Linked DNA regions of Homo sapiens. The protein of the gene in region 2 purifies or fractionates together with the protein of the main gene of each other region. This does not show direct contact. Each region holds a gene or a part of one and is shown on either strand. Other genes may lie near its edges.

Evidence for each region.
Region 1: the proteins of TXNDC11 (region 2) and USO1 purify together in Homo sapiens (affinity purification with mass spectrometry; 3 studies listed by BioGRID and IntAct, with this or other methods). This does not show direct contact.
Region 3: the proteins of TXNDC11 (region 2) and C1QTNF9B purify together in Homo sapiens (co-immunoprecipitation; one large-scale study listed by IntAct). This does not show direct contact.
Region 4: the proteins of TXNDC11 (region 2) and RBL1 purify together in Homo sapiens (affinity purification with mass spectrometry; 3 studies listed by BioGRID and IntAct, with this or other methods). This does not show direct contact.

The regions. Positions count from the first base shown.
Region 1 is NC_000004.12:75,796,702-75,802,488, reverse strand, and holds part of USO1 (general vesicular transport factor p115), read right to left. Parts: intron 2,868-5,787; coding exon 2,757-2,867; intron 2,139-2,756; coding exon 2,020-2,138; intron 1,872-2,019; coding exon 1,690-1,871; intron 1,411-1,689; coding exon 1,289-1,410; intron 1-1,288. UniProt on the Homo sapiens protein: General vesicular transport factor required for intercisternal transport in the Golgi stack; it is required for transcytotic fusion and/or subsequent binding of the vesicles to the target membrane.
Region 2 is NC_000016.10:11,734,090-11,739,876, reverse strand, and holds part of TXNDC11 (thioredoxin domain-containing protein 11), read left to right. Parts: intron 1-3,643; coding exon 3,644-3,860; intron 3,861-5,787. UniProt on the Homo sapiens protein: May act as a redox regulator involved in DUOX proteins folding. The interaction with DUOX1 and DUOX2 suggest that it belongs to a multiprotein complex constituting the thyroid H(2)O(2) generating system.
Region 3 is NC_000013.11:23,893,542-23,899,872, forward strand, and holds the start of C1QTNF9B (complement C1q and tumor necrosis factor-related protein 9B precursor), read right to left. Parts: upstream 3,962-6,331; 5' UTR 3,877-3,961; intron 3,686-3,876; 5' UTR 3,581-3,685; intron 3,466-3,580; 5' UTR 3,446-3,465; coding exon 3,280-3,445; intron 1,102-3,279; coding exon of another isoform or gene 970-1,101; intron 661-969; coding exon 598-660; intron 1-597. UniProt on the Homo sapiens protein: Probable adipokine. Activates AMPK, AKT, and p44/42 MAPK signaling pathways.
Region 4 is NC_000020.11:37,032,697-37,038,483, forward strand, and holds part of RBL1 (retinoblastoma-like protein 1), read right to left. Parts: intron 2,813-5,787; coding exon 2,546-2,812; intron 181-2,545; coding exon 1-180. UniProt on the Homo sapiens protein: Key regulator of entry into cell division. Directly involved in heterochromatin formation by maintaining overall chromatin structure and, in particular, that of constitutive heterochromatin by stabilizing histone methylation.

The DNA.
Region 1 (5,787 bases), on a different chromosome or scaffold from region 2:
AAATGGTAAGAATATTTAAAATGAACATTTCTAAGGAAGTCATTAGAGTAATTGTGTCAATCACTCTTTTCTTTTGCCAAATCAACTGTATTTGCAGCCCCAAGTATAGACTCTATATCACATTACAACTATTTGTTTTTTTCACTGTTCCAAAGATATTATTACATTTTAGCAACTGGAAATGGCTCCATCTTTGTACCCAGATATAGATGAAAAATCCTAATAACCATAGGTAGTTTGATGATTCAAATTTTACCATTCTAAGATTATAATTTATTGATTGATTTACTTTTAAACTGAAAAGCTTAGAATGAATGCTAAATATACCACAATATTTTCATTCTTTCTTAAAATTTTAATCTCAGTAGGCTGGGCGCGCTGGCTTATGCCTATAATCCCAGCATTTCGGAAGGCTGAGGCAGGGAAGGGAAGGGATCACCCGAGGTCAGGAGATCAACACCAGCCAACATGGTGAAACCTCATCTCTACTAAAAATATAAAAATTAGGCAGCGTGGTGGCACACGCCTATAATCCCAGCTACTTGCGAGGCTGAGGCAAGAGAATTGCTTGAACCTGGGAGGCGGAGGTTGCAGTGAGCCGAGACTGCGCCACTGCACTCCAGCCTGGGAAACAAGAGCAAGACTCTGTCTAAACAAAAAACAAACTAATCTCAGTAATGTAGATTGTGAGGAAGAAAATAAGATATAAACAGTTGTCAATTTAAAGGGTTCTATCTATGCTTTTACTTGCCACACCTGCCATAAACTGTGCACAATTAGTAGACAGGTGTGGAGAGCAGTAGAGGGAAGGGGATGAATCTGTCCCACAGGGTCTGCCACTATTGTATTTTTTTATGACACTGGAATTTTAACAACATTAATAACCTCATTTTTCAGCACTTTCTAGAATTCCAATCAAGGTAAATATCATAAGAAATTAAATGAGAGTAAAAGTCAAGAAAACATTTTGAAGGAATATAATGAAGGTTTAGGGTACTCAACACAATGCAAGTAATGAAAGTTCACTGGTATCCTGGAAAGAAAATGTCAACTGATGATTCCGCAATTGTAGTTTCATCTTTATCCACTCATCATTATCTAATAAATCAGCTGCATGGTGCTTAGCACATATTAAGCACTCTGTTTGTTGAATACTCAGATGCTTTGAAAAATGATGGGTTTTGCTTTCTATATCCTCTTTCATTTGAAATGTCAGAAAAAAAGGCTCCCTTAAAGCAGAAAGTGCCTATTGGTAATCAGAGGGTATATACAGTTCATTAGTACTTACCTGCTCTCGAATCATATTTTTGTAGTGAGTCACAATATTGTCATGCTGTTCTAATGTTTTTTTCACCTCTTCTTCTTTTTTATCTTCTTCACTGGACTTATAAATAGCCTTAGTTATAACACCTATAAAAGGAAGCTTATTTAAAATTTGTTTTAAATGTTTTAAATACTATTTTACTACTAAGACTTAGTAAAAACATATAACCTAACTCCATGATAGGTAAGAAATAATCTTTTCAATCCTACTGAAAGCCAAATGTCCTTCAATGGGCTACAGATCAAGAGCTAGGAAGAAAATATACCTTTAGAGTTACCATATAACCTGTATGCATCCAGAATATACATGTACAATATAAATATAATTACTTTCCATCAAATATCAATATAAATCTTCAGTCTTACCTTCAAGTTCTTTTACCAGCTTCGTAAACTCATGATCAAATATCATGTATTCTGGACTGGGAAAGTTTGGCTGGGGTTTCTGAGATGCTCTGGAATACAACTCATGTTTGCTAATAAATCCTAGTTTCTCTATGAAATTCTCTTTGCCAATCCTCTTCTCAATCAGTTGTTTTAGCTTCTCTCTACGGAGATAAGCATATTGAGATGCTTTAAAAAAAATAAAATCAAAACAAAACATAAAAGCTTGGTCTACATAATGCTTTGGCAAAAAAAAAAAAAAAGCATCATTATCTCTTGATGCCATTAGAAAACCATCTTCCCCTTACTTACTTCATGTAGCTCTCAAGTGAGTTATCATTGAAATAAATCGAAATGCCCAACAAAAGGGCACATAAGCCTTGGACCAACTGCTCTTCTTCTCCAAGATTTTCTGCAATTTGTCCTGTAAGCTGAAATCTTTGTTAAGGAGGCTAAGGATTGAAAATATCTAGTACATTTTGCAATTTGAATTTGACATACATTAATACTTCACATAAGAGTTCCCATAAGAAATTCCATATATAGGCTAGGTGTGGTGGCTCATGCCTGTAATCTCAGCACTTTGGGAGGCCAAGGTGGGTGGATCACCTGAGGTCAGGAGTTTGAGACCAGCCTGGCCAACATGTCTCTACTAAAAATACAAAATTAGCCGGGTTGTGGTTGCGCACACCTGTAATCCTAGCTACTCAGGAGGCTGAGTGAGGCAGGAGAATTGCTTGAACCTGGGAGGCGGAAGTTGCAGTGAGCCGAGATCGCGCCACTACACTCCAGCCTGGGCGACAGAGCAAGACTTCATTTCAAAAAAAAAAAAAAGAAATTTCATATATATATTCCAACCCGGCATAAAACAAACCACACACACACAACTTAAACAAGCATCATAACAACTTTAACAGTTTAAAAAGTTGCAACACAGATAAGATAGTGGAGAATTCAAATATTTTGGGCATAGAACTACTTCTAATTGAGGAGAAAAACTAAAAAAGATATAAATACTTACATGTACGTTACTAAAACATAAAGGATACAAATGGAACATTGGCTGAATTGTGAAGAAAATGCGTTACTGCAATGGGACAATTGCTTAGCCAGGTACAAAGCAACATTAATAATCCAACTCTTGTTTGTATTTTGCTTCCCTGCAACAGATAAATTGGTAGAAATCTTTCCATTCATTTTATATTTTTCAAACTTAAAGTTGCCCTAAGATCCCTTCCATTTGCATGAAAAGAACTTTAACATCTTACAAGAGATGAGCCAGAAATCCAGTTTTAAAAAACTAAACAAGAGAATAAATTATTGTATGCACCACAGGCTGCACTTCCTAAAATGAACAGAGTGCAGAAATTAGAACTGATTCATGTTCAGAGGCATATACTGGGTTATTTAAAATATGATTAGTTTAAAAACCTTGTCTGCTAAGGAAAAAAATCAGTGTGGAGGCTTTAAAATAATCTATTAATCCCAAGACCCTTTACAATAAATTTGCCAAGCAAATTTATGATATTTCAGTCACAAGTTTAAAAACAAGTTCCTGATAAAAGGAAAATTCTACTTCCTTCAAAAAAAACCAAAAAACAAAAAAATCAAGAAAAATGCAAAAAATAATCCCCTGAATCATTTAGTCAAATTCCATGAGAGAATATATTCTCTAACAATAAATAAACCATACTACAAATTCAGTCATCACACACCAGATGAGAAATCACAAACATAATCAAGAGGAAGATTTAAATTAGCCAAGTGCCCCCAAACCATTAACAGCTGCCAAGTATAGTTAATAATGAAAATTAGCATATCCAGCAAAATTAGTTTTCAAAATTTTAATACAACACATTTACATCTCCTAGGTAGAATATTCTCTTAGTTCACAATATTGACAGTGCCCATATTTATATTCCTATAACCTGTATCTTTTTTTAAAAAAACAAAACAAAACTTGTTTGAAATAAAATAATGAAAATCAGAATAGTAATGCATCACTTTGGGGAAAGTCTCATAAAATGTCCGAAATATAATTCAAAGATCTAGACAAGGAATGAATTTAAAGTAATCATCACTGTGTTCCGAAAAATTTCTACCACCCAGACTATTCTAATTTCACAAACCTTGATGCCAATATCTTGACTCTTCTATAATCTATTTTTAGGTATATTTAATATTGAATTAAGTTCAAACAGGACCTCTTCAAATGATTTGCCAGGTAAGCACTGATACAAATTTAGTTTTTACATGATGCATTATTTTTACTGTTTCCTTGCCTCTACGTCATTACCATGCCCACAATATATCTTCAAGTCATCCATGTAAATTGGAAAGTTAAAAACCAGTCACTGCCAACTGACTATGTGCCACAGAAAACTTACAACTACTCGAGTTACAAATGCAAATGTTTTGTTCATCTACCTGGTTATATATAAGTTCATTATTACTTAGCATAACCATTTGCAGGTACCAAATATACCCACAATGTATATATAAGAACATCCTATCAAATCACTGGCTGATGTATGAGTAAAAAAAAACAGAGTAAGATTTAAATCAGAATCTTCTAAAAGCATGGCTTTTGGGGTCTAATTGAAGGATAAGAAGAGCAAAGTCAAATATAACCAGTTAAAAGACAGAATGAAACACTCCATTTATTACAGAGACAAAAAAAGATAAAGTACTCAGGAGTGAACCTAATCAAAATGGTATAAAATCTAAACAAGGAAAATTTTAAAACACTCCTAAAGAGCACAAAAGTGGACATAAACCAATAGAAAGCCACCATGTTCTTAGATAGGAGACTCAACATCACAAAGGTGTTAATTCTAAGTTAATTTATAAAATTAATGTGCCTGTAATCCCAGCACTTTGGGAGGCTGAGGTGCGTTGGATCACCTGAGGTCCAGAGTTCGAGACCAGCCTGACGAACATGGTGAAACACTGTCTCTACTAAAAATACAAAAATTAGCCAGGCGAGGTGGCGCGCGCCTGTAGTCCCAGCTACTCAGGAGGCTGAGGCAGGCGAATCACTTGAATCTGGGAGGTAGAGGTTGCAGTGAGCCGAGATCACAACACTGCGCTCCAGTCTGGGTGACAGAGTGAGACTCCATTTCAAAAAAAATAATAATTGTAAAATAAATTAAAAATAAATAAATGAATAAAATTAATGTGATTCAAATAAAAATTACTAAAAGGCTTTTTTTTTTTTTTTTGCTTCTGGAACAAAACAACATGATTCTGAAGATCATATGAAAAAAGTGAGATTAACTAGGGACACTGTAAAAAAAAAGAAAAAAGAGAGAATAATGGATCACGAACAAGCAGGAATCAAGAGACAGAATACAAAAATCCAGAAAAATGGGCCCATATACAAATGAGAATTTAATATATGAAAAAGTAGCATACAACTATCAGTGAGTTACAAATAGACTTAAAAGATTTTGGGACAACTGGAGAGCTATCTAGAAAAAGATCAGTGGATCTGTATCTCATACAGTTCGCTGAGAAAAACAGAACAAAGAATTAAATGAAAAAAAAAGAAACCAGAAAGTATAAGATAAACATTGAAGTATAATTCCTTATAAAGTCTTTTTTGGGGGGATTGGAGACCAGGTCTCGCTCTGTCTATCAGGCTGGAGTGCAGCAATCATAGCTCACTGCAGCCTTGAACTCCAAAGCTCAAGCGATGCCCCCACCTCAGCTTCCAAAGTGTTAACATATAGGTGTGAGCTACCATGCCTGGCCTAGTAAATTCCTTAAAATCTGAACATGGAAAGGCCTTTTCTAAGTATGACTTAAAATGCAGAAGCCATAAAAGATAAGTCTGAGAAAAAAAAAAATCCATAACAAAACACCAAGGTCAAAAGACAAATGACATACCAGAAAAAAAAAAAAAAATCTGTAACTCATATTAAAAACAAGGGTTAAGTATGTTAATATAAAATGGGCAGAGGATATAAATAAAAGGAAAAGTACACACCTCTTTTCAGAGCCCCTAGAGTGTGTGAACCATTGAGGAGATTTGAGAAAACAAATGGAGGCTAAAACTGTAATTTGAGAGCATTCTCGGGG
Region 2 (5,787 bases):
GCTCCAGGCTTGAAATAAATGTCTGCTCTTTTCAATGTCTGTGGCTTGGCTGAATTCAAACCAGCTAATATGGAAAAGGTTGATTTGAGGTTGAGCCACAGTGAATAATCGTGCGTTTCTGGGCATCTAATCTTTACTTACCTGTGTCTCTTCATCCTGCTCACCTTTCTTTTACCTTGATTTAGAGGGAAAAAAAATTGTCTGTGTGTAGATACATATGTATGTATACATGTATTTATTTTGCTTTATTCCATTTTGTAATTTCAAAGCTGCCTCGAATGGTCTTTGCAAGGAAGTGATGTAGGGTGTGAATTTCATAGGAAAATTGGGGTTTCAACAGGCCTTTTTTCTATGTTGCCCCGGCTGGAGTGCAGTGGCTATTCACAGGTGCAATTATGGCATGCTGCAGCCTCAAACTGCTGGGCTCAAGTAATTCTCCTGCCTTAGCCTCCTGAGTATAGTAGCTGGGACTATAGGCACATGCTACTGGCTCAGCAACAACAGGCCTTCTTATTTGCAACCAACTCGAGTTTTTTGTACCCGAGACATACCCCTCATAGCTGCAGGAAATCTTTGCTCTATGTATAGTTTCTCTAAAGCGTGAAGCAGATTGATGAGTTAAATAGAAACTCACCAGTGTTTCTGATGGAGTAGAGGCGAGCGTTTCTTCTCCCTGGCCAATATTTGATTTTTGATTGGCCTTGTACTTTATCTGGCTCATTTAGGAATGCTTCTGAATATGCAGAGCAAAATTACTGAGTTGCTCTTTATCCTTTCGTTGACTGTCAGACCTACATTTTTCCTCAGATTGCATTATTTGATGCTTACATTGCATTTTTTTTTTCTTTTGAGATGGAGTTTTGCTCTTTTTTCCCAGGCTGGAGTGCAATGGCGTGATCTTGGCTCACTGCAAACTCCGCCTCCCGTGTTCAAGCGATTCTCCTGCCTCAGCCTCCCAAGTGGCTGGGATTACAGGTGTGCACCACCATGCCCAGCTAATTTTGTATTTTTAGTAGAAATGGGGTTTCCCGGTGTTGGTCAGGCTGGTCTTAAACTCCTGACCTCATGTGATCCACCCGCCTCTGTCTCCCAAAGTGCTGGGATTACAGGCGTGAGCCACGACTCTTGGCCATGTGCAGTTTGAATGGTAGAAAAGTAATTTCTCCAAAGAGCAGAATTTTGGATCTCTTGAAAACGTGTCTTTTTTTTTTTTTTCCTGTAGTGCCCTCCCCACCTCTTAGGTGGCTATCTTCTTGTCATTCAGGTCTCAGAGCTTAAATTATAGCACCTCCCAAGCCACCACTCCATCAGAGGAGCTACCATGCCCTTCTGTACATCACCTTGTTAAATTTTTCACATAGTGAGCATTTAGTATATTTTTATTGTTTACACATTTGATGTTTTTCCTGTCTTCCTCCCCTAGAAAGTGGTCTCCTCGACAACACGCAGTGCTAGCTGCCGCAGCCTTAGTGCTTGTGCCCAAAGCACAGTCACAGCTGCTCAGTAAAGAATTTTTGAATAATTGTGTAAGTGATTTTTTCAGGTTATGAAGGCATTCTGCATAGACTGAAAGCTCTCTGATTGAAGGTTAAAATATTAGTTTGAGTGAATAAATAGGTGACTTGCTCCGTTGGATACTTCTGCCTGTTCTGGAATTTCATATAAATGCAGTCATAGTGCATGTACTCTTTAGCACTTTTTTCACTCAGCATAATCATTTTGAGACTCATCCAAGTTATAGTACATATGAATAGGTTTTGCTTTTCGTTTTTATTGTGGAGTAACATTTAAGTAAATGGGTAAGAATATACCCCAGTTTATCATTTTACCTCATGAGTCATGCCAGATTTCTTATGCTCACTATTTACATAGTTTTTCTTTTCCCATCCTTATGCCTTTATCCTGTGTCTTTATATTTAAGATATATCTCGTTTAGATAGTGCATAATTGGGTCTTGCTTTATCCTGTCTGGCAGTCTGCTCCTCCTAATTAGGTTGCTTCCTTTTTTTTTTTTTTTTTTTTTTTGAGAGACGTAGTCTCGCTCTGTTGCCGAGGCTGAGTGCAATGGCATGATCTTGGCTCACTGCAACCTACACAATTCTCCTGCCTCAGCCTCCCGAGTAGCTGAGACTACAGGTATGTGCCACCACGCCCGGCTAATTTTTTGTATTTTTTTCAGTAGAGATGGGGTTTCACCATGTTAGCTAGGATGGTCTTGATCTCCTGACCTCGTGGTCTGCCTGCCTCGGCTTCCCACAGTGCTGGAATTACAGGCATGAGCCACCGCGCCCGGCCTCTCCTTTTATATTTAACGTAATTGTTGAGGTAGTTGGGTTTAAGTCTACCTTCGTGCTCCTTGTTTTCCATTTGTACCGTCTGGCTTTTGTTCTTTTCTTGTTCCTTTACTTACTTTCTTTCTTTTTTTTTTTTTTAGATGGAGTTTTGTTCTAGTCACCTAGGCTGGAGTGCAATGGTGCAATCTCGGCTCACTGCAACCTCCGCCTCCCGGGTTCAAGCGATTCTTGTGTCTCAGCTTCCCGAGAAGCTGGGATTACAGGCGCCCATCACCACGCCCAGCTACTTTTTCATTTTCAGTAGAGACAGGGTTTCACCATGTTGGCCAGGCTGGTCTTGAACTCCTGACCTCAGGAGATTTGCCTGCCTCGGCCTCCCAAAGTGCTGGAATTACAGGCTGAGTCACCACGCCTGGTCTCCTTTACTTTCTTTGGGGTTAATCTCATCGCGTTTTAGGTTTCCATGTTTATGTTCTCTATTTATCTCGTTTAGATAGTGCATAATTGGGTCTCATTTGTTTCTTAGCAAAGCTGCCCTAATGGTTTGTGGTATGTGAGTGTAGATGCATGGACAGCTCAGGGTGTTTACTAGGGCCCTTCTACTTGGTGGGATGCAGCCTGGGCCTAGATCTTTAGGTCTTGATGGGGAAAGTTACTTCTGACCACTTGTTTGTTCAGCGTTCTTTTCTTTTTCCTCCTGATCTGTTTCTTGTGGGAAGCTCAAGTGTTCAAAAAGCCCATTTTCCAGTTAAATAGGCTGTTGCTTTGTTACTTATCTTCATTAGTCTTAGGATTATGATATATATCTGGAGGAATGTATATTATTGTTTAATTGTTACTGTTACCTGAATGCCCTGGATAAGTACAAGCCAACTCCAGCTAATAAGCTTAATGTTTTCTCAAAGTTGAGTTGATTGTAAGCATCTCCCGTGGAAATCTTGTTAATGGTAGTTTACATGCTCCCTCACCGTAATTCTGAGCTTGCATGCTGGTGGCTCTAAAGCCCTGGAGATAAGTGGCTTTTGTGGAGAGCCAGGCTGCAGAAAAAGGAGGATGAAGTCTTTGGGATGTGGGGAGCAGGAATATGGATTATTCAGAGACATCCTTCTCTGCTCTCCACTGCCCTTCCAGCCTACACCTAGGGGACAGAATCTCAGAGAATTGTTTCCAACGTATTATTCATGTCTTGCATTTGCTCAGCCAGATGTTGCCTTTCTAGGGCAGTGATTTTGGGACTCCATTTTCTTATTCAAAAGAGGATTTTCCTTTTAAGCTTCATTCTACTTCCACAGAGCTATTTTTAGAAGAAGATAAACTAAGCAATCTTTTCTGTGTTTGCTCTTTTTTAGTCGAGCAAAAGATGTGATAATACCAGCAAAGCCACCTGTCAGCTTTTTCTCCTTGAGGTCTCCAGTCCTTGACCTCTTCCAGGGGCAGCTGGATTATGCAGAGTACGTTCGACGGGATTCAGAGGTGGTACTGCTCTTCTTCTATGCCCCTTGGTGTGGACAGTCCATCGCTGCCAGGGCAGAAATTGAGCAAGCAGCAAGTCGGCTTTCAGATCAGGTAATGCTCACATTCAGCTTAAGAATCAAATGACTGTCAGTCCTATATGTAGGGCAGGATGTCCCCACAGAGACACCTTGCCCAACGGGCAGACTTTGCCAAGGTGAACTCCAGGAGTCGTTTCTAAGTTACAGAGCTTTCTATAAAGCAACAGAAAGGATTTCCAATTGTGGCGATTGTACTCCAAGGCAAGTGTGGGAGCAGATTCTGAATCTCATAACACAAGCCAATGCTTATCCTGGGGTGCCATACTGTTTGGTTTCAGCATTGAAAAAGGTAGAGGGACTGAAAATCCTAGTTCTTGCATATCCATTTGATACTTGCTAGTTAGGTATTTTAGGTAAGAAAATGTATGTATGATATGACTGCATTGTAACAAGGCCGACCTTTTTAATATATGGACCAGAACTATATTCAGCAGATAAGGAATGCCACCTTTGGGCTAGGTAAGAAAGATATATAGGCAAATAAGTCACCTGTTATGGCAGTGGTTTTCAGCCCAGTGGACCCCAGTTGTGCTTTAGAAAATAAGTATTTTATGATGTCCCTTTTTCTTCCTAAAAAGGAATTCATAGATGATAAAGTTTTCCTATACATGTAATTTCAAAATAATCTAATGCACGGATTGTAACATAGAGGTGAGGGGGGAAGAAAGTAATTTGTAACTAAATGATATATATTTTAGTATGTAAGTGCACAGTCAGAACAGGTCCATATACCTTTATGTAGAATCACTGAATGGGATAGTTACAAACGTAGACTGATAAAGGTGATATGTTGGTGACTTACCTGCCACATGGACATTGCTCTTAGTAATTGATTATCCTAAATGGTGAACAGTCTTGGTAAAATCCTGAACTATGCAAAGCCCTTTCTGCTCTCAGTTTACATAGAAGTTGCATTCCTGAAAAATTCAGTGAACACAAAAAGCATGCTTTAGATTCACATGTAAAATGGAGCTAGGTACTGGGCTTTGATAATAACAGGTTTTCCCCAACATCAGTGTTTGGCAGGCGTTTTGAACTCCTCTGGAATGCTATGGACGACTCTTCCGTGTGCAAAGCAGGTTTGAGTGTAGCAGGACATCTACCAACACCCCTGCCCTACGTATGCACTGTAGCTTCCCCCAGTCATTGTAGCAAGCCAAAAGCATCCCACAGATTTCTAAGACTCTCCTGCTCAGAACCACTGATGTGAAGTAACGTGTGTAGGCAGCTGAGTTCCAGAAGTTCATTTGGAACTGTCATTTGGTTTTTCTTAGAAACTGTGGAGCCTTCCAAATTTAGAGAACAAAGTTCACGTTGCCCATGTTGGGCACAAGAGGGATATCTATTGTGTTTTATTAATAAGTGTGAATTAGCTACCTTACTGTCAGCCTAAGCAGTATGTCCTTCTGAGTGATGGCATTAGTATAATAATAATGATATTCTGGTGTGCCAGGCCCCATGCCAATTCTCAACCACTTTGCAAGGCGATGCTGTCAGCCCTGTTTTTCTGAAGCAGGACTGCAGGCATAAGGGGTGAAGCAGTTTGTTTACCATCACGTAGTGGTGGGGGTTGTAGTGCAATCCAGGGACTGCTGCTTTTTTTAAAAAAAAAATTTCAGCTCCTTCCAAATTGAGAGCTTACTATTCCATGTACTCAGTAGGGAAAAAAGTGGGTTTATTTTTGGAAACACACAGAAATCTTTTGAACTGTATTGCATGGTAAGATTGGTAAACACGGTCCAAGTCCTGCCTGGACATCATAGATAAGAGTATGTCTTTCTTTTTTGTTTTAGTGATAAATTATGACCTTTGAAAACTCAAAACAGTTTTTTTCATAGTTTCTGTTTCAGTGAGAGAGGAATCATTCTATTTTTAAATTTCATCTTTTAAATCTTGGTAACTTTTCAGTTGTTATTCATAGTCATTTGAAAACCTTTTTT
Region 3 (6,331 bases), on a different chromosome or scaffold from region 2:
GGCTCATGGCAGCCTCAAACTCCCAGGCTCAAGTGATCCTCCCATCTCAGCCTCCTGAGTAGCTGGGACTACAGGCATGTGCCACCATGCCTGGCTAGTTTTTTTATTTGTATAGACAAAGTCTTACTATGTTGCCCAGGGTGGTCTGGAACTCCTAGGTTCAAGCGATTCTCTTACCTGGGCCTCCCAAAGTGTTGGGATTACAGGTGTGAGGCATGGTGCTCGGCCATGGTTTGCATGTTTAAATGGTCACAAATAATATTCCACAATACATGGAAACCATGGGAAATTCCCATTTCAGTCTTCACACATATGGTGTCACTGGAACAGAGCCATGCTTATTTATGGAGCATCTACAGCTTCTTTTCACTACAAGGGGAAGTTGAGTAGTGGTGACAGATCTGTGTGGAGTTGAGAATATTTACTACCCAGCCCTCTGCAAAGCCTGCCAATCCCTGCAGAATCCCCCCATCTGGAGAGTAAGAACTGTGTTGCCTTTATTATAAGATTATAATCAGCATGGAGGACTTGTCCATGGTAATATTGTTAAATAGTCGACAGCTCAGAATTAGAGCACCATAAATAGGAACTACTAACCTCGTTCTCCCTTCTCTCCACTCGTCCCATCCTTCCCCGGGCTGCCAGGACATCCTGGTTCTCCTAGGTGGAAAAGCAGAAAACAGGCATGAGTTGAAATTCCATTTCTGATTTTTCTGGCCATTGGTCTCCATCAGCCATGTGTTGGAGAGTCTGGGGGTGACCCCCGCCCTGACGGGCACTCTGTCCTCCACACGAGCGCAGGTGGAGAGAGGCAGGCATGAGCGGGCATCTGGGGTGCTGAGCTGCGTGGGATAAGTGACCTAAGAAATGAACTGAGTGACTTCCCAAGCGCCCATCTCTAGGACGTGCCTAGAGCGCACAGCAAGACAGGACGAAGAGGGAGTGTGTGCAATGGGGACTGACTGTCACAATTGATTGTGTTCCTCTCCTGCGACAAGGACTTGGGACGTGGTCTGAATGTTGGAGGTGCGAGGAGGTTTCCTCACTCTGTTTCTCTTCCATTACTCTTGAGGAGAGTGGAATGGAAGATTTACTAGGCTCCTATGAAAACACAGATGACTATGGTTACGTGACACTATCCCAAGATAGAAGAGAGAGTTCTGGAGGGATCCCTCTAGTGCCTTACACTGGGGGAAATGCTACTAATCGAGCTGGCAGAGAACATCAGGTGAGTGGGGCTCTGCTGACTACACTCAAGTCCTTGTGCTCAGAACAGGCCCCCCTGAGCTCCAGGTCGGCGTGCTATCCGTCAGCGGGTTGAAGGTGGCTCTGGCTATGGCAGTAGAGTGCTCATTGGGCCACAGCTCACCCCAGACTCTGGCTTCTCACAAAGCAGCAGAGACTCCCATACTTCAGACCCACTGACGTGGCTGTGGGGCGACAGGCGCAGGCTGGGCCGGCTTGCAGGTCCTGAGACAGGACTGACACAGGCAGACTTATTTCTGTCACGATGTCTGTTCTCCTGGGACACCAGCGCTCCTGAGTGGGGCCTTGGTCAGCGTGGGACCTCTGAATGGAGGGGGCTTATCCCTACATTTGCCCCTCCCTGCGCTCCCCTTCCCTCCCCTCTACTGGCTGCTCCCCTGTGTCTTCCTCTCCTTCCCTCTTTTTGTTCCCCTGCTTGGCTCTCGTTTCTCCCATTCTCTAGAGCAGTGGCCTCTGAGCTTTCATGATCACGCACCACAACTCACAAAGCATGAACACAGACCCCAATCAGTAGACATTTATATGTTTCTACATTATGCACAGGTAGTATATGAAAAATATGTTTGGTATAAAACATACACAAAAATACACTTTAAGATGGTAAGATAAAAATGAAGTAAATTTTTAGTGTGAGCAATGTGATTGAATGTCCTTCTAAGAAAGAATATATATTACAAATAATACTTATGAATTACATAGAAAAAATAGATATAACATTTGCTTCTAAGAAGTATGTAAAACTTGAAAGAATGGACATTGGTGAGCAGAGGAGAGAAATTCAACACGGAAGAGGTAGAGAAATTTGGTATTGAATATAGAAGTGTTTGTCTTAGTTCTCTGTATTTTGTATCACCTATTTATCTCCTTTTATGTGTAATATTTTATAACAAAAATTTAAAAAATGAAAATCCTAAACATTCAGAAATAAAATACACACAGACACAGACATACACACACACACACACACACACACACACACCACTGTGGTCACAGTGTGAGGGCAGAAGACCTGATTTCATTAAGGGTAAGGTTTTAGTATTCATTTGGACTGGGCTATTTGCTACCGGGGGACTGGAACAGTCTCAATGAGCTGGAGATGTGAGGAGCCAGGAGAAGACACCTCACAGAGCAGATGTGCCGGTTAGAAAGAAATAAAGTTGCTTCCTGGTGACCCTTGGCTTCATCCAGCCCATTCAAAAAACTATCAGGCCACCAAATGCCATAAAGTGAGACATGTTAGAAACACAAACTTATTTGTAAAAAGGTCCATAGAAGTTTTGATATTTTCTTTCTAATGCCACTGAACTGTGCTCTTAACCCAGTGAATCATTCTGCATAAGTCTTAGATATGTGACCCTATGGTCAAGACCAGGCCTCAAGAATGGTACCCCATTCAGAAACCAAGTCTATTGGTTGTTGTTATGGAAAGCACTCAGACTTCCAGGCTTTGGCAAATCTCCCTCCCAGAGGATGGATTCTGTCCCCAGATCCCCAGACCCTGCCTAGGTCATAGATTCATAAGCAGCAGCTGTATGTGTCATCTGTCACTCCGCATCTCCTGCTTCATGACATGATATGGTATTAGCTCTCACCTGCACTGCAGCTGGGTGCTTGCTGCCAAATAATTCATGATCAGATCTCTCTATTGGCCTCGTGTTGCCAAAAATCCAACATACCTGTCACCTGAGGTGGGAGGATCCATGACATTGTATACTACTGAAAATGTCCTGCGGTGTCAGAGATGAGAGAACCCAGGAGGGCAGGGGTCATGGCGATCTGGCCCTGTGCTCTCCACCAGCACCTGGCACAGAGTCTGGCATGGAGCAGACCCCGTGAGTGTTGCTGGGCAGATGGGTGGATGGATGAATGGGGTCAGGCTCCAGTGAATGTTGCTGGGTGGATGGATGGATGGGTTGTGAGTGGGTAGGTGGAAAACCACACAGATGATGAGTGAATGAGATGAAAGTAATGAAGAGAGAAGCTCAAAGGCAGCCGAAGCCGTCAGGTGAGTACCTGCATCGCCTTTGTCACCCTTCGCTCCGTCTCGTCCATCTCTTCCAGGCAGACCATTGTGACCGGGGTTCCCAGGGATTCCAGGGTGCCCTTGCCTGCAGGTGTCCTGTGAGTTTATGTTCCCTGTGCAGATTTCAATGGCAAGCAGAAGCCACCAGATCCTCATGGTTCAGATGACAGACTGAACTGAAAGAGGGAAACAGAAACCCAGAGGAGAAACCTTTGTTGCTGGGGCCCTGGACACAGCCTCCGTTCTGTGCAGTGGGAAATGGATGAGCTGTCCCCTGCCCCAGACCCACACCTGGACAGACTTGGCAGAAGACTCAGGGCAGGGGAGCAAGCTGGTTATTACCAGGATGACATTGTCCTTGGAAGGTAACACTTGTGATTGGAACCACTCTTCAAGCTGAACGGGCAATAAAAAAAAGCCAAGTTTAAGGTCAGGATACTCTTCCGTTCATCATTTCACTTTGAAGAAATCACTTCTCTTAACCACAGACCAATGCTTACTTATCTCACAGGACTATTGTAAAAATCAAATTTTATCACAATATGCATAAAGGCACATGACAAATAGTGAAGCAAACATAGCATTACCATCTGATCCAGCAATTCCACTGCTGTGCATCTACACAAAATAATTGAAAGCAAGGACTAGAACAGATGTCCATGTTCGTAGTTGCATTATTTTCCATAGCAACCCAAGGGTCCCTCAGTGGATAAACAGATACATGCAATGTGGTAGGTCCATACAATGGAATATTCTTCAGCCTTAGAAAGAAAAGAAATTCTGACATGTGTTACATGAATGGACCTCGAGAACATTATGCTAAGTGAAACTAGCTAGTCACAAACAGACAGACCTGGATAACTTCAGTTATAAGAGGTTCCTAGAGCCGTCAAACTCATATAAAGAAAAAGTAGGATGATGGTTGCCAGAGGTGAAGAGAGAAGGAAATGGGAGTTGTTTGATGGGTACAGAGTTTGGGAAGATTTTAAAAGAGTTCTGGAGATGGGTGGTGGTGATGGTTGCACAACAAAGAGAATGTACTTAATGCCACTGAACTGTGCCCTTAAGATGGTTAAGCTGGTTAGTTTTATGTTATATATTTTTTTTACCACATTAAACAATTAAATTAAATTTTTAAAAAAGTAAAGCATTCCAAACAGTCTTACTGTAATGAGAGGTATTCTTTGAGTCAGGGTCTTGTTTTTCTAGGAGGCCACTGTGAAGAAGGGCCACACACACAGAAAACATCACCTAGTTCGGGAGAAGTGCATTTTCAAGTCCTTTCCTCTGTAGACACTGCCCCCACCCCAGGTTATCCATGCAGTTTCCCCCGCAGCAGGAGCTAAGACAACGCTTGGGCAGTGCTCCAAACGGAGCAGCAAACGCAAGGCCTGGAAGGAAGATGAAACGTGGATGGCTGGGCCTCCTGACTCAGCAACGCTCCCACTCAGGGCTGTGGAGCACCCTGTTACTCTCCCACATGGCGCTTGTCATGGCAGGGGCTTGACACTTGTTTACATAATTGTAGGATGAAGAATCTGACTCCCCGCCTGACTGTATTTCCTCATTATTGCCTTCCCAGTACTCAATATTAAACTTGGAACAGCAGATTGAACAAATACTTGTTGAATGAAATTAATGTATCATCATGGGAGATGTCTTAGGATATATATATAATTTTTGGAGACAAGGTCTTGCTCCATCACCAAGGCTGAAGTACAGTCATGCAATCACAGCTCACTGTAGTCTCAACCTCCCAGCTCAAGTGATCCTCCTGCCTCAACCTCCCAAGCAGCTGGGACTACAGGCATGCACCACCACACCCGGCTAATTTTTTTTTTTTTTTTTTTTGAGATGTAGTTTCACTCTTGTGACCCAGGCTGGAGTGCCATCTCTGCTCACTGCAAACTCCGCCTCCCAGGTTCAAGCAATTCAGCTTCTCGAGTAGCTGGGATTACAGGCGCCATCACCACGCCCGGCTAATTTTTGTATTTTTAGTAGAGACGGGGTTTCACCATGTTGGCCAGGCTGGTCTCAAACTCCTGACCTCAGGTGATCTGCCCGTCTTGGCCTCCCAAAGTGCTGGGATTACAGGCATGACCCAATGCCACTGGCCCTAATTTCTCTTCTCTTCTTTTCTTCTTTTTTCCTTCCTTCCTTCCCTCCCTCCCTCCCTTTCGTTTTCTTTCTCGCTTTCTTTTTTTTTTTTTTTTTTTTTGAGACTGGGTCTAACTCTGTTGCCCAGGCTGGTCTTGAATTCCTGAGCTCCCACCTCAGTCTCCCAAAGTGCTAGTATTACAGGCTAAAGCCCCTGCACCTGACTTTTAGGATTTAAAAAATTAAAGTAAAACAAAAACGTGGGCCTAGTGCAACTGGTCAGAACCCAGATCCTCTCACAGTGCTGATAGCCACGTAAATCTGCACATCTTTCTGGAAAAGTTAAAGAGCAAAAGACATCTATGTCTTTCACCCTGTATTCCTATCCCTAAAGTTCTTCCTAATGTTCCAAAACTGTGTGCCAATTGTGTGCCATTACCTGCAGCATTATCTATAACAGGTGAAAAAGTGCATACTACATACTATGTAACAATAGGGGAAAGGTTTACTATGTGTAATAGTATGTAACTGCTGCAATAATCATGAAGGTCATGTAGAAATATGTGAATGATATATGTTGTGCTGAATTTTGATAGCAGACTAAAATGCCATGCACATTATAAATGTACTTAACGACTGTATGAATATTGACAAAAACTCAAAGTGAGTATGTGCAAATAAAGATGGTTGCTTTAGAATGCGGGGCAGTTATGGGAGCTTTTCATTTAAAAAATGCTTTTTTATAGTGCCTACACAAATATTTCTAGATTTTGAAAACCAGCAAGACTCTCTGTCATCCAAAGACTGTATTGCCATCTGGTGGAAATGTCACAGGGTGCAGTCTAATGCAAATGGAGTATTTTTAGAAAAGGAAATGCAGATGTTTCTCTTTGAAGTCACAAATCCGCTCCATTCCAGGAAATTGAGTTGAGTTTTCTTGGAGCC
Region 4 (5,787 bases), on a different chromosome or scaffold from region 2:
TCTTTGGCCTGTTTATTCCAGTTGAATGTACCTCTTGTGCTTTAGTCAGATTGGTCTGTTTTGGAGAAGCACCAATTAATGAATGAGCAGTAAGTGATACAGGACTCTTGACTTTGGACTCCTGATTTGTATTCATGGAAAGAGGTATCAGTGTGATCTCTCCAGCATCATTTGCGACACCTGAATGTATAAGCATTATTAGAAATAATCTGCATATGTTCTAGGAAAGTTGTCAACTATATATATTTTGACAATTATATATACATATATCTGTGTGTATAAGAAGGCTACAAAATAGTAATTCTAGGTTATGACTGAATTCTTTTTTTTTTTTTTTTTGAGACAGGGTCTCACTTGGTCACTCAGGCTGGAGTGCAGTGGCGCCATCTCAGCTCACTGTGGCCTCGACCTCCTGGGCTCAAGTGATCCTCCCATTTCAACCCCCGCAAATAGCTGAGACTACAGGTGCAAGCCACTATGCCTGGTAAATTTTTTTTTTTTTTTTTTGAGATGGAGTCTTGCTCTGTCGCCCAGGCTGGAGTGCAGTGGCGTGATCTCGGCTCACTGCAACCTCTGCCTCCCGGGTTCAATTCTCCTGCCTTAGCCTCCTGAGTAGCTGGAACTACAGGCACATGCTACCACACCCGGCTAATTTTTAAAATATTTTTAGTAGACACAGGGTTTCACCATGTTAGCCAGGATGGTCTCGATCTCCTGACCTCATGATCTGCCCTCCTCGGCCTCCCAAAGTGCTGGGATTACAGGAGTGAGCTACTGTGCCCGGCTTGTATTTTTTTTTTAGAGATGGGAGTTTTGCCATGTTGCCCAGGTTAGTCTCGAACTCGTCAGCTCAAGCCATCTGCCTGCCTTGGCCTCCCAAAATGCTAGGATTACAGGCATGAGCCACTGCAGCTGGACTTTTTTTTTTTTTTTTTGAGACAGTCTCACTCTGTCACCCAGGTGGGAGTGCAGTGGCCTCATCTTGGCTCACTGAGACCTCTGCCTCCCAGGTTCAAGCAATTCTCCTGCCTCAGCCTCCTGAATAGTTGGGACTACAGGCATGCGCCACCACACCCGGCTAATGTTTTTTCTCTATTTTTAGTAGAGACGGGGTTTCACCACGTTGGCCAGGCTGGTCTCAAACTCCTGACCTCAAGTGATCCACCTGCCTCAGCCTCCCAAAGTGCTGGGATTATAGGTGTGAGCCACTGTGCCTGGCGCCCCCCGGGCCCCCTTTTTTTTTTCTTTTTCTTTTTTTTTTTGACAATGTCTTGCTCTGTTGTCCTGGCTGGAGTACAGTAGCGTGATCATGGCTCACTGTAGCCTCAAATTCCTGGGCTCAAGTGATTCTCCTGCCTCAGCCTCCTAAGTAGCTGGGACCATAGGCATACATCACCATGCCCAGCTAATTTAATTTTTTGTAGAGATAGGATATTGCTATGTTGCCCAGTCTGGGTCTCAAACTCCTGGGCTAAAGTGATCCTCTTGCCTTGGTCTCCCAAAGTGCTGGGATTACAGGTGAAAGCTACCATGCCCCGCATAAATCCTTATTTTCTAGAAACAAGAATATTCGGTTTTGTTTTTATACTTTAAATTTATGGAAAAAAAAGCAAATTTTGTTCTCTATTTTGTATTTGCCTGGGATACATTTATAGTTTAAATTTATTGGAAAAAAAAGCATTTTTTTTTTTAACATTTTGAGCACTTGAGCTGTTAGTCAAAAAACAGAATTTTTGCTCAATACATACATATTGGAAAGCTCAGATAAGAACATTTTAAAAGTAGTTTGAGACCTGGGCAACATGGTAAAACCTCATCTGTACCACAAATAGAAAAAATTAGCTGGGAGTGGTGGCACTTGCCTGTGGTCCCAGCTACTCAGGAGGCTGAGGTGGGACGATCACTTGAGCCTGGGAGCAGAGGTTGCAGTGAGATGAGATCATGCTGCTGTACTCCAATGTGGGTGACAGAGTGAGATCCTGTCTCAAAAAATAAAAAAAGAAGAAAAGAAAAAGTAAAATAAGTCTAAACAAACAGAGAGGGTAGTAAATTTATAAAATTTAAAAATAAAAAAAAAACCACTATAGGTTCAAAACAAAAAGGTGGGGCACAGAGGATTTATAGGGCAGTGAAACTACTCTGTATGGAGCTATAGTGACAGATACATGTCATTATACGTTCTCAAAATCAATAAACTATTCACCAAGAGTGAACCCTAATGTAAACTATGGGCATTGGGTAATGTGTCAGTAATGTAGGTTCATCAACTGTAACAAATGTAGCATTCTGGTGTGGAATACTGATAATGAGGGAGGCTTTATATGCCTCTGGTTGGGGAAGGGGGACTATGAGAAATGTCTGTACCTTCCTCTGAATTTTGCTGTGAATCTACAACTGCTCTAAAAAATTCAAATCTATTTAAAAAAAAAAAGTATAGGTTCAAGAAAAAATAATGAGTTAGAAAAACCATGTGATCTAATCCACTAAGACATTTCTTAAATTTTTATCTCAGAAAAAGTACAAAACAAATGCACTATAACGTTACCATGTAATGGAATTGTAACTTTATGTCCTGTTGTTCCTGTTACTGGGGCTGTGGCCATTGTTAGAAGAGTTTGACCAGGTAAAATTGATACATTTTCAGCAGTAATGCTTGAAGAAGGAGCGATTTTCAATTTTGTTCCTTCTGTTATGATCTTGTCCATAAGCATTTCCTTTGGGGGGTCCTCTCCAAAGAGTCTTCTCTTAGCACTCCCTGCGGTAGGAGAACTGTAGCGTTCATGGACAGAAATTGGAGACAATGGTTGCATATCTAAAAAAAAATAATAAATTTAAAACAGAAATGTATTCCAAAATAATAAATTAGGTTTACTCATTCACTCAACAGATAGTGAGTTACTTATGCTGGGCACTAGCTAGATATGAATAACATGGCCTTTGCCCTCATGGAATATGTAGTCTACTGGGAGAAAGAGGCATGAAATAAGTCACTACGATAAAACGTGAAAATTATGATCACTCATCTTCCTGGTTTCTTGAACCTCTGCCTACATTAAAGGAGCAAAACATTAAGGACAAAGTAGAGGTTGAGAGGTAGAATGAAGTGAGCACTAAATTTTAGTAGTAGTCCAATATCTCCCAATCTTACCTAGTAGAGAGCACCTGAGAAGAAGGGAAGCAAAAGCAAAAATCAGGAATTTGGGTCACAGTTTTGCCTCTTTGTGAATATTTGCACTCCAAGCAGTTTAAGGCGGTAGCTCTGGCTTTCTAATTTAGTAGATATGGAATCATCTTTAGTAAATCTATCAGAAGATATGAGTAAAGATGATATAAATCTGCTTACCTTGCCTTAATCTGAGGGTTGGCAGTACTGTGTTGATCAAAAATAAAGTAAGGATTATGGATTTTGCCTCTCTTCCTGTGCTATCCTTTCACAGGATCTGCTTTCCATTCCCTCTCTACCAGCTGCACGGGTTTTTCTAGCCCCTTACAACCCTACATCTTTTCTACATCTTTTTTCACAATTCTTCCCTCAACCAATTATTCCTTACAGGTAGGTCAATAATATGCTTTTAAAACAAAAGTATTTATTTATTTATGAGATGGAGTCTTGCTCTGTCACCCAGGCTGGAGTGCAGTGGCACGATTTTGGCCTACTGTGACCTCTGCCTCTTGGGTTCAAGCGATTCTCCTGCCTCAGCCTCCCAAGTAGCTGGGACTACAGGCATGTGCCACCATGCCTGGCTAATTTTTCTATTTTTAGTAGAGACAGGGTTTTGCCATGTTGGCCAGGCTGGTCTTGAACTCCTGACCTCAGGTGATCCACCTGCCTCATTTGGGATTACAAGCTTCAGCCACCGTGCCCGGCCTTCATTATTTATTTTTACATTCACTAGATAATTAGATAGTCATGTAATCTATTTTCTTTTCTTTTTTTTTTTTTTTTTGAGATGGAGTCTCGCTCTGTTGCCCAGGCTGGAGTGCAGTGGTATGATCTCAGCTCACTGCAAGCTCCGCCTCCCAGGTTCACGCCATTCTCCTGCCTCAGCCTCCTGAGTAGCTGGAACTACAGGCAACCGCCACCATGCCCGGCTAATTTTTTGTATTTTTAGTAGAGATGGGGTTTCACCGTGTTAGCCAGGATGGTCTCGATCTCCTGACCTCGTGATCTGCCCGCCTCGGCCTCCCAAAGTGCTGGGATTACAGGCGTGAGCCACTGCGCCTGGCCCTGTAATCTATTTTCAAAACATGTTCAAAAGGTATGAAAATGACCCCTGGCAATGATTTAGAAGCTCTCTGTATTAGTGAGGTGATTGGGAAAATAGTTATAGTTTAATAAAAATCTCCGTAATTCTTGGGCTTATGAAAGCAGCTTTTACTTCTCCTGTCTTCAGTAAACAAGTGCAAATTTCTATAGTTGTTTCCATTACTCTTTTACAAGAGTCCATGTGAATGCCTTATATCTAAGAAATCCACGCAAGCCCTTGAATCTGACTAGGCATGTTTAAAGGTGACATTTCAAGGCAAGACTCGAGTTGAAGCCATAAAGTTAGCTGCAAATCCATTGAAATGATCTTTTCTTAGCACAGTACTGGAACAGCTATGGTGGATGCTCAATAAGAATGTAATGAATATACAAATGTAAAGCGGATCCAAATTTAGAAACATGACAATCTGTCAAGGTACAGAAAAGATGCTCACTTAGTTATAAATTATATGAGAGGAAGGTGGCAAGCACAGTTTAAACTATTCTTGCTAAGTTTTTAAAAAAGAAAATAATTCTCAATATTTCGTAAGTTTTAAATTATAGTATACTAAATATTTTTACTATTTTTTCATTTCTCTAAACATTAATAACTGACAGAAAGAAGAGCCTTTTTTTTAACATTTTGACAAGATTCGTAAAGATCAAAAAACAATTATAATAATTATAATTATTCCCACTGATTAAAATGACTGAGTATTCACATCTTATGCAATCTTGTTTTTTTTTTTTGGAGACGGAGTCTCACTCTGTCGACCAGGCTGGAGTGCAGTGGCACAATCTCGGCTCACTGCAACCTCCGCCTCCTGGGTTCAAGCAATTCTCTTGCCTCACTCTTGCCTCAGCCTCCCAAGTAGCTGGGACTATAGGCGCATGCTGCCATGCTTGCCTAATTTTTTGTATTTTACTAGGGACCAGTTTTCACTGTGTTGCCCGGGCTGGTCTTGAACTCCTGACCTCGTGATCTGCCCGCCTCGGCCTCCCAAAGTGCTAGGATTACGGGTGTAAGCCACTGCGCCCGGCCATTGTTTTTTTTTTTTTTTTTTTTTTGAGATGCAGTCTTGCTCTGTCCCCAGGCTGGAGTACAGTGGTGCGATCTCCGCTCACTGCAAACTCCATCCCTTGGGTTCAAGCAATTCTACTGCCTTAGCTGCCTGAGCAGCTGGGATTACAGGTGTACACCACCATGCCTGGCTAATTTTTGTATTTTTAGTAGAGACAGGGTTTCACCATGTTGGCCAGGCTGGTCTCAAACTCTTGACCTCAGATGATCCACCTGCCTCGGCCTCCCAAACTGCTGGGATTACAGGCGTGAGCCACTGTGCCTGACCTTATGCAATCTTTTTTTTTTTTTTTTTTGGGTCGGAGACTCGCTCTTTCGCCCAGGCTGGAGGGCAATGGCACGATCTTTGCTCACTGCAACCTCTGCCTCCCAGGTTCAAGTGATTCCCTGCCTCAGCCTCCCGAGTAGCTGGGATTACAGGCACCTGCCACCATGCCTGGCTAATTTTTGTATTTTTAGT